Regions from separate parts of the Homo sapiens genome. Here region 2 is linked to region 1. Evidence: fine-mapped expression QTL. A gene starts in region 1. The other region holds a variant in brackets. All regions are shown on one strand. Distances are between the middles of the regions.

The links. PIP is the estimated chance that this variant, and not a neighbour inherited with it, causes the effect.
Region 2: its variant is the best candidate, but not a certain one, in a credible set for the expression of PLEKHF2 in monocytes after Pam3CSK4 (Quach 2016, PIP 0.76).

Annotation. Positions count from the first base shown.
Region 1 is chr8:95,131,449-95,136,792 of GRCh38, reverse strand. It overlaps PLEKHF2 (pleckstrin homology and FYVE domain containing 2), which reads right to left and starts at 3,008. Exons shown (of 2, transcript NM_024613.4): 1 at 2,763-3,008. RefSeq lists silencers at 2,447-2,606, 2,627-3,266.
Region 2 is chr8:95,177,766-95,183,143 of GRCh38, reverse strand. LOC124901982 (a long non-coding RNA gene) reads right to left here. Exons shown (of 2, transcript XR_007061015.1): 2 at 1-1,132. Among named protein-coding and RNA genes, the nearest start is that of LINC01298, 36 kb to the left of the region's middle. RefSeq lists an enhancer at 1,712-1,811. The variant ACTCAC/C (reference allele first, on the strand shown) is at 2,402.

The DNA.
Region 1 (5,344 bases):
TTAAATATTAAGCAGGCAGCTCATGTACAAAGCTGGTTCATCAAAGATAAACAACAACAAAAAAATTTTTCATATACTTTCTATTAAGCAGGGCATTCTAAAAATTCTAAGACAATTCCGGCAAAACAATAATTGATAGAGCTATAATGAGATTTGTTCCAAGAGCTTAAATGTATAAATATGACCTTTAAATTTTTCAAGCATTAACAATATTTCCATCAAGTTCAAATACATTCAATCACACTTAAAATTATGATTATAATCCTTTTGATGATCCATGGCTTCTCTCTCATACATCAGTAATTATACTTTAATCCATTATCTACTTAGAAATTTCATAAATATTCAAGTTCTGTACCCCCAGGCGAAAATTCACTCAGGTACTAAGTTAAATTCTCAACAAAACAACAACAAAACATGTGTGTGTGTGTGTGTGTGTGTGTGTGTGTGTGTGTGTGTATATATAATAAAAACCAATCTGTGGATTTAATGGAGTTGATGGCATGTATTGGGAAAAAGACTACAAAGAAGATTTAACTATGATGCTCATGGAATTTACAATTTCAAAAGAAATTCATGAAGCATATTTACAAGGAACAAACATACGTGTACTCATCCATTCAAACCTTTCCTGAGCATCTGCTATGTTCTTGGCATGCAGGGAATGAAGAGGCAAATCAGACCCGATGTGTTGCCTGCTGTCAAGGAGATGTCATGACAGAATCTATGCGATATTTACAGTAATACCATGGGAGAAATTAATTGATTTCTGGAGAGGGCAAGGGAGTGGAATGAGAGAACAGAGCAGAAAAGGCTTCAAAGAGTATAGGCTTAAGTATTTTTAAGGAAAAAATTTCATCACAAGGATCACCTGTAAATCAGCTCGCTGGGAAATAAGTATTTATACTGAAGAACTAAATTCAAGTCAGAGCAGTGATAAGAGCAAACGAGATGGACAGATTGCTCCAGAAGACTGAGTTATGTATCCTACAAAGTTATGCTACAGGAAAAATGAAAAGGCTTCAGAGTCATAAGATCTCAGTTAAATACCAGTTTGGCTGCTACATTTGTGAAATTAGTTAATTTCATTTCTAAATAAAAAATGTTATAATGCCATTTACTTGACAATGAAGCAAAACTAAAAGAATTTTTAAGAACAACAGAAATTGGCAATACAGCCTGAGCAACATGGCAAAACCTTCTCTCCACAAAATTCAAACAAAAATTAGCCAGGTGTGGTGATGCGCTCCTGTAGTCCTAACTACTCAGGAGGCCGAGGTGGATCACCTGGGCCCCGGGAGTTTGAGGCTGCAGTGAGCGGAGATGACACCACTGCACTCCAGCCTGGGCGACAGACAGAGACCCTGTCTAGGAAAAGGAAAAGGAAGGAAGGAAAAAGAGAAAAAAGGAAAAAGAAATTGACAATCAAATATGAGCAGAAGCTGTATTTTTAGATCTAAAAAGTAAAATTCTCCAAGAATTTGGGGTTTTAGGGCTTACTGTATTTGTGTTTAAGAGCCTTTTCAGTTCATTTAACAGAATTTTAAAGCAAGATGTCTTTATTTAAAAATCATTTAGATTCATTTACTGAGGCTGAATATTTTCTTCTGAAGCTTAGTCACTATACTAGTTTTATTTAGAGGCCGATTACGTGTGCTTTCCAAATAAATAGCTTAATACCATTCATTCCCCGTGTGGTCGGGACCCAAAGAGATTATAATGAAGCCTTCGTTAATACTGAATTAACGTGAAGACCCCACGAGCTGCCAGAGTATTTAAAAAAAGTAAATGCTCAAAACGCGGTAGGCATTCACCCTTAAGAAACTAAAGGGAGGGGAAAAAAACTTCAAACTGTCAAGATCACTTCTTATTCTTAAGAGAACACATGCCTTTAAGACTCTCAAAGTTTCTGTCTAAATCTTTCTTTAATGAGTCTCTTCAGCAACGTACTACACAACACGACAAAGAAGGCATTTATCAACAACGCGTTTTGTGAGTCTATGAATTACCGAGGAGGGCTTAGGTGTCTGTAACCTTCATACCCACTTCCACCGCACACTCAAGTTATTGCTGGAATGTACGGAGAGCACACAAGGCTATTCAAGCAACACCGGCAGCGCGCTCTCGGCCTTCAATCACATTTTTAAAAAGAAAAATAAATTCGTCAAAGGATCATAAAACTTGAAAAGGCTCCAAATAAATAAACCATCGCTTCTATCAGAGCAAGTTCTGCGGGGCCATTTTCGTCTCCCAAGTGACATACAAATATGTAGTTCAGGTCATAAGGTCCCCGACACGCAGACCCTGCAAACTTTTCGGCCAGAAATTTGTCGCGACCCTGAGACGCCCCCGGCCGTGTCCAGGACCCCCGTCCTCAGGCCCCACAACTTCTCGCCCGGCCTCGGGGCTCCTTCCCGCGTCCGCCGGCCCCCGCCCCGCAGACCCGTGGACCGGACCCTACCCGGCGGCCCCCGTCCCCCCGCGGCGGCGGCGGCGTCCTACGGGCGGGCGCGGCTCGCTCCCGGGCTGGCGGGACGGCGGCGGCAACTGGCCCGCGGGCCGGCCCCGGCGCGAGGGGAGCGGCCGGGAGCGCCCCGTTTCTCACAGACCCCAACATGGCGTCGGCCGCCACCGCCCGCGACGACGACACCTCCCGGCGCTGCGACGGCTCCGGGACCGCGGGAGGAAGCGCCCGGAAAGTTTCGCGTCTCCCCTCCCGGCCCGTCAGGAGCCGGCGGACCACCCACCCGGGCTTCACCTACCCCGACGGCCGCGGGCGGCGGCGGCGGCGACAGCGAAGGCGAAGGTCCGATCCTCCTGGTCGCGGACGCAGGGCGCGGACTCTGCCCGTTCCCCGCCGGGGCCTTCCAGGGTGTGTGCTGTCCGCAGCCCCGCGCAGCCGGCGCGATCCAGACGCGGTGGGCGGGCTGGCCGCCAGCGCAGCCGCTCGCAGGTGACTCCCCCGCCCCTCCAGTCGAACCCGACAACGGCTGCCTGGGCTGGCCTCTCCCCTGCGCGCGCACGGGCGCGCCCCCGTCCACACTCCGGGCGCGAGCGCGCGGGCACGAGCACACCCACACCCCTCGCTCCCCGCCCTTTCTTGCCAGTTCCCTCGCCCCGCCCCTCGCGCCCCTCGCGACGCGCTCTAGGGGCGGGGCCTTTGGCGGAGGCCACACCCACTCAGGCCGGCCGCGGGCGGAGCTTGTCCATGTGTGAGGTCGGGACGCGCTCCCGCGACGCGTTGAGGTGCACGTGAGGCGCCTTACCTGACTTTCCTGACTCCGACCAGCCCTTAGAAAGTATTGCTCAACTGTCTACGAAGTTCTTAGGGAGACTGGAATAATAGAAGGAAGACACCTCCCCACCCACAACAGGCCTCCCCGGGGAACTGAAGAACGAGAAAGGCAGGCTTTGGATCTAAATGCCCAAAGGCATCGGTACTGGCATTTGCTGCTCCCATTTAGCACAGCAATCCTTTCCGTCACACTTTCCCTTTGCTTTACCTAAAATCCCTCCTCTTGAAACCAAGGGAACTGCGGCGACACACACATACCCTACGTGCTCCACCCAGCCCTTTCTTTTAAATGCATACTTTAGAATTCTGGTCTTCCCAAAACTTTGACGACACAAAACCCCATCAGCCTACTTCACATACCTAGAAACTGTAATTATTGCATAGTATATAAGGTTAAATGTGCCCTAATTGATCTGATAGCTAAGCGCTCTGATGGGTTCGTAGAGAGGTAACGAAGTTGCTTAGGGTAGACTAGGGATGGGGGCGAAGTAGGGAGAACAGCATACTTATTTTAAACAAAGTGTGTGTGGTGTGTAGGAGGAAATTGGGTTTTGGTAAATTTTATATTTCTTATTCATCTATTACTTCAGTAAGTTGTTTTAACCTGTGTTTGATTGCTGTTGAATTAGAGTCACTACCAGCCAAGCTGCACGTGGATGAGCACCTAGGGATGAGAGCAGACTTGGGTTCCGCCCTGCTCTTCCACCTGGGATCTTCCTCCTCCAGGCTTGTTGCCTCCTATCCTCCCCTATTTCAATAGAGTTTGTCTCTGAAACAAACAAGTCTTTTTTTAAATTAATAATTAGAACAAAATTGGCAAAGATGAACTTTTTTTAAATGGGGAAAATTGTATGATCACACACACACAATCTTTCGTGTGTTAGAGTTGTCTCTAGATGAGTACAGATGTCACCAGGACGCTTGTCCGTACCATCACTCTACCTCATTCACCTCTACGTGCACAGCAATATCTATCAGTGGGGAAAAGGCAGGACTAAATAATGCCTAAAATCCTTTTAAATTTTGAAAGTAGGAATTGCTATGTCTGACTGGTTGTCTAAGGTCAAGCCTAGAGCATTAGTTATCAAATATTTTTGGTCACTCACATTAGTAAAAATGTTTGCCCTCCTCACTTCCCATGTACTTATTTAGCTTAAGTAAAGTGCATAGATAGAAGCCAGAATGACTGTAATCAAACATTGGCTTTGTCTCTAACAACCTTGGCACATCCAAAGATAACTTTGGTTTTTTCACTTGTAAAATGGAGATAATAAAAGTATATCACAGAGTCATTATGCAGATGAAATGAATTAATATATGTAAAGCATATACCTGGCACACAGTGCTTTACAAGTGTGAAATAAAATTATTACATACATAATATACACATTTATATAGTGCTACGTAAGTGTGAAATAAAAGTTGTTACATATGTAATATACCCAGCTACTCAGGAGGCTGAGGCTGGAGGATCACTTGAGGCCAGGAGTTTGAATCCAGCCTGGGCAGCATAGCAAGACCCAGTCACACATACACACAGAATTATATGTATGATATATATAGTGTGTATTTATATACACACATACACCTATTATAATATACCTAGTATGTTAGGTACATTAAAAAACAACATACACACACAAAAAAATCAGAAATAATGATTTTAAATATATATATGTATGTTTTCTTTCTGTACTCTTCATAGTCTATGCCCTCCCTGGGCTGCGTGCACCCCAGTTTGGAGACCGTTGATTTAGATCTGTGCTAACAAATACAGTAGCCACTAACCACATGTCTTAATTAAATGTAAATTTATTTAAATTAAAAATTTAGTTTCTCAGTCACACTGACCACATTTCAAGTGCTTAATAGCCACATGACTATTGGACAGTGCACATATAAAACATTTCCATCATTGCAGAAGTTCTATTGGATAGCACTGACCAATCTGGAACAAAGCAGGGAACTCAAAAGTCACTGAAAGGAAGTAAGATTCACTCCTACCCGAACCTGTAATTGTGGTACCCTGTTCAAGTCAAGTGATAAGAC
Region 2 (5,378 bases), 46 kb before region 1:
AAAGCATTTTAGATTCACAGCAAAATTAAGAGGAAGATACAGAGATTTCCCATCTATTCCCTGCCCCAAACACACACAGCCTTCCCATTATTAACACTCCCCGCTCTGCCCCAGAGTGTTACAGTTGTTACAATTGATGAACCTACATTGACACATCATAATTACCTAGTTTACATTAGGGTTCATTCTTGTTGGTGTACTTTCTACGGGTTTGGGCAAATTTATAACGACATGTATCATCCACCGTTATTGTATCATACAGAGTAGTTTTATGGCTCTAAAAATCCTCTGTACTCAACTGTCAATAGCATACATTTATCAAAACACTAATACATCACTTTCTTCTTTAGTATCATAATCAACATTTAAGTCTTAGCCTGCTTTGTATTCTGCATCTGGAGATCCTTGGGAATAATACTGGATCATCAGTAGCTTTGCAAAACATCCTCGGTGGCACACTGCTTTCCATAACCAGGACTTGTGCCCTTGACCTCTAAAATACTTCAAAATATGAGTTCAAGGCCTGCACAAGAATCCTAAGTTTGCCTGCATTTTCTAGTTCCCCTTGAAGTTTCTTCTTTCTTTAGTGGGATTTCACATTACGGAAATTACATGACTTCTCCTGAAAGTCAACAGGAAGTTTTTGACAAACTGTCCATTACTCTAACTTTCTGAATTTTGGAAATTCCGGGATCTGTCCTGAGAGATTTGGCCATCTTTACTGCCATCAGTTCCACTGCCTGGTGTGTGCAAGCCATCTTCTGAAATTTCAATGCTACATCATTGTGTGACCTTTTTGAAGATATTAGGTAATAATTAAGATTCTAAATTTAAGTTAAAATGTAGTCATTCAGGCCAGGCGAGGTGGCTCACACCTGTAATCTCAGCAATTTGGGAGGCTGAGGCAGGTGGATTGCTTGACTTCAGGAGTTTGAGACCAGCCTGGGCAACATGGCAAAACCACATCTCTGAAAAAAGACAAAAATTCACCAGGCACAGTGGTGTGTGCCTGTAGTCCCAGCTACTTGGTAGGCAGAGGCAGGAGGATCACTTGAGTCTGGTAGGTCACGGCTGCAGTGAGGTGAGGTGAGATCATGCCACTGCACTCCAGCCTGGATGACAAAGTAAGACCCTGTCAAAAAAACAAAACAAAACAAAACAAAACAGTCATTCAAGATGCTGTCTAAACAAATAACTCAGTGAGGTGCACATGGGATAAGCAGATAAGCCAAGCCAGGCCAAGGTCACAGGTATACAGAGGCCAAGCTTTATTAAAACACACTTATTCCCTGTTCCCTGCCTGGACAGAAAACAGGACACATCAAAATACTGCCACTGTAGATCCCCAAGCCACAAACAAGCCATCAAGCTGCATCTCTGGCTCCCATTGCAATGCCTTGCTGGGGTTAGATGTTCTTTGTCAGTGGCCCGAGCCAACTTCCCTTTGCAAAGCAGTCACACCATGAAGCTGGCGGTACGAGACACCATGTGACCGGGGGCTTGTTTTATTTCCAAGCTGCCACTATCACGAGATCTGCCACTGTTGAATTGCTTCATCTCCTTCATCCCAACTTCGTGCTTTCATGTGAGTGTCACTGTCCTATCCTCCCCATTGTCTGCCAGAGTGCTGAGGAAGAAATGCTCCCTCCAGCTTTGAAGAGTCATTTCAGAAGGCATAGTCCACGGTTCCCCGAAAGCTGAAGGTGGAGGCATTTATAGACACATCCACTTGGCAGAGGGCCTTTGTTGTGGGCGAGGAGGAAGTGGTAACCCCCGGACGGCTGGGCCCCCTCCATGTGACTCGGCTATCACCTGCCATCAGCCAGTTGGCGGGAATGGGATGCAAACCACCATCCTTTGGGGGAGAAGCCAGGATACAACTTCCCGGCTGCAGCCTTATTTTGGTGTCACACTCCAGAGGCCTCCTGGCCGCAACCATAACCCATGTTATCCCAGCGGCTACACTTGGGTACCTCCCAGCATCGCTGGCGTTTCCCTCTTGCTTGTTTGACCTCTTGGAAATGTTCTTAAATACACTCTTGAACCCCAAGCAAGTCACCGAGTCTTGCTCTCTTTGTTTTTCTTTTATTACATGGCAGGGATATCATTAGTGTTAAAATTCTGAGTTTCTATTTCCTTAGAATCTTTCCTGAGATTCTACATTTCCTTAGAATGACCCAGTTTCAATGGTGGAAGGATGTTCGATATCATCTGATTTCCTAAGGGAAAATTTTCACAGGAAAAAGGCTGAAAACTCTATATAAAATTCTTAGAATTGGCAGCATAAATTTTAATGAGGAAGCAGCGCCTTGTGTAGACAGAACTTTCACCAGGAATAGCAAGGCCCCTGACTCTCAGGCTAACTGTGGGGCCGCGAGCTCTCTGCTCCTGTGTTAACTCA[ACTCAC/C]CCAAAAACTAGGAGGTGAGGCAGCCTAGCAGTCAGGAATGTGGGCTTCGGGGTCAGACCAATATGGGTTTAAGACATGGTTCAACCAGTTATAAACCATGTAAACTTGCATGAGTGACTTGACCTTGTTAAGGCCTTGGTTCCTTCATCTGTAAAGTGAGGACATAAGAATTTGCACAAGTTAGTTAACCCCCTTAAGTCTTCGGTTCCTGCAGATGTAGACTGATTGTACCTAACCTCTCTTTCTCTAGCTCTGTCTCTCTTGACTCTCATATAAACACACTTACGCATCTCCTATCTTAAAAATATAAGAAAGGCATCAGCAAATAAACTCCTCTTTGACCTTTGTCCCTCTCTAGCTACTGTCCCATCTCTCTGCATCCCTTCTGTCTAAACATCTGAGGAGAGGGTAGATACTTCCCATTCCTTTATCAGTTTCATCCAAAGACATTATAGCTTTTCACATTGGACTATTTCTAAAATTGGACTGTGTATCTTTTGCACTGGTAACAACTCCAAATTTCAGTGGCTTAAAACACAATGGCGGATTTCCTGCTCATGCAACATGCCTATCACAGTCCACCAGGATTCTGCTCTGTGTCATTCCCAGAAGATTACCAGTGACTGTGGCAGGAGAACAGAGCACCCTGGAGGGTCTCACAACACCCACTAAATGCTCTGGCCCTGGCCCAGAGTGGCACCTGCCACTATTCACAGCTCTTTGGCCAGAACCAACCAGAATTCCCCTGACCCCACCCAACTGTTAAGTGCAACCCCACAGTGCAGTATTTGGCAAACCACACAAATGGTCTTCAGCTACATTATTATAACAGCAAATAGACTGTAGACAATCAGCTGTGTTATAGCTTCAGTATGCTTTTGTGGGCTAGCTTGGAAACCTGACCACTATTCAAAACAGTGTTCCTATGAGAAAACACGTGCCAAAATCCAAGCTGCTGACTTATAAAACAAGCTGGAACACAATCTGTTAGTAAGTTGAGGCTTCTTATACTTAAGAAATTATTTTTGAAACATGGCCCCAGAATTTGACAGGCTGGATTGAATTATTCAGCCATAGCTATGAGATCCAGAACAAGCTACATAATTTGTGGGGCCCAATGGTGGGGAACCTTGTTCAAAAAGCAGGGGGAAAATGCAGTTAAAGTTACTAAAATATAAAGCTTTTTTCTTTCTCCAAAAGTCTCTCTCTTGATTTATCATAGTGATTTTATTTGCTATTTAGGCTGAGCATGGTGGCTAATGCCTGTAATCCCAACACTTTGGGAGGCCAAGGCAGGAGGATCGCTTCAGCCCAGGAGTTCAAGACCAGCCTGGGCAACATAGCAGGATCCTGTCTCAAATATTTTTTAACAAATAATATGATCAAAAAATTGCTATTTATTGTTGTTCTCAGTAAAGGTAAATTTTTAAATGATTAGAATGAACTGTTCTGTTCATTTTTATATTGTGCAATGCCAGGTTTAAATGCAAAGATAAGAGCATCTTACACACTTCCTATTTCAGAGTTGGTACATGCACATGTAGTTAATTCTTTTTAAGAGACAAGGTCTCACTCTGTTGCTCAGACTGGAGTGCAGTGGCACAATTTTGTCTCACTGCAGTCTCAGACTCCTGGGCTCAAACGATCCTCCTGCCTCAGCCTACTAAGCAGCTGGAACTACAGGCACCCACCACTGCACTGAGCCAGTTTTGTTTTGTTTTGTTTTGTTTTGTACAATCAGGGTCTTGCTTCGTTCCCCAGGCTGGTCTCGAACTCCTGGCTTCAAGCGATCCTCCCACTTCAGCCTCCCAAAGTGCTGATATTGTAGGTGTGAACCACTGAACCCAGCCTGTAGTTCATTTTTTTTTTTTTTTTTTTTTTTAGACAAAGTCCTGCTCTGTCACCTAGGCTGGAGTGCAGTGGCGCAATCTCGGCTCACTGCAAGCTCCACCTCCCAGGTTCACGCCATTCTCCTGCCTCAGCCTCCTGAGTAGCTGGGACTACAAGCGCCCACCATCACGCCCAGCTAGTTTTTTTGTATTTTTAGTAGAGACGGGGTTTCACCATGTTAGCCAGGATGGTCTCTATCTCCTGACCTCGTGATCTGCCCGCCTTGGCCTCCCAAAGTGCTGGGATTACAGGCGTGAGCCACCGTGCCTGGCCAGTTCATTCTTAACAGAACAGTGGAACTGCTGCACCAAACTAACTCAACTAATTTCAGCTCACTTCCTAATACAAATCAGAGAACTAACATTCTACTTTCAGCTTACTGACAAGGAAGGAAGGGGTAAAGGAAAAGGTACTATTGGTTGCAGTATCTTTCCCTCTCCTATGTCATTTTCAGTGTTAGTGGTTGGCTAATACAGAAAAGGAACAGGAGTAAGAGCAGATGATAGGATTCCTTGATCATTTGTGTTTCTGGCTTTATTTCTATGTTCAAAGCAAATTCTGATTCAGACAAAAAGCACGGGCTCTTAGCCTGTGACAGCCCCTGCTGACTCAGGCATAGGCATAACACCCTTACTTTTGTTAAAACAAAAAAAAGGAGACAAATTAAATTTGGCAGTGTTTATTTAAGCAAAGAACAATTCATGAATTGAGCAGCAGTCTGAACCAGGAGGGGTTCAGAGAGCTCCACCCAGCAGTGCAGGCAGGCAGTATCTACAGACAGAGAAAGAAAGTGATGTACAGAAACAGTAGATCGATTGCTTACAGCTCTGCATCGCGTTATATGGACATGGTCTGATCAGCCGGCAGCCTGTGATTGGCTGAAGTTTAGCTGCTGTGATTGGCTAAGACTTAGTTATTTGTTATAAGAATACACTCCTTAAGTTAGGTTACAATTTGTTTACTTACTAAGTTACACTGGAGTTTGCTATGTACAGATACAGCTTTAGGTCAAATTTAATTTAACACCTTGTACCTGCTTTGAGTCTCACTAAACTCCCACAGATTGTGGGTCCACTAGATT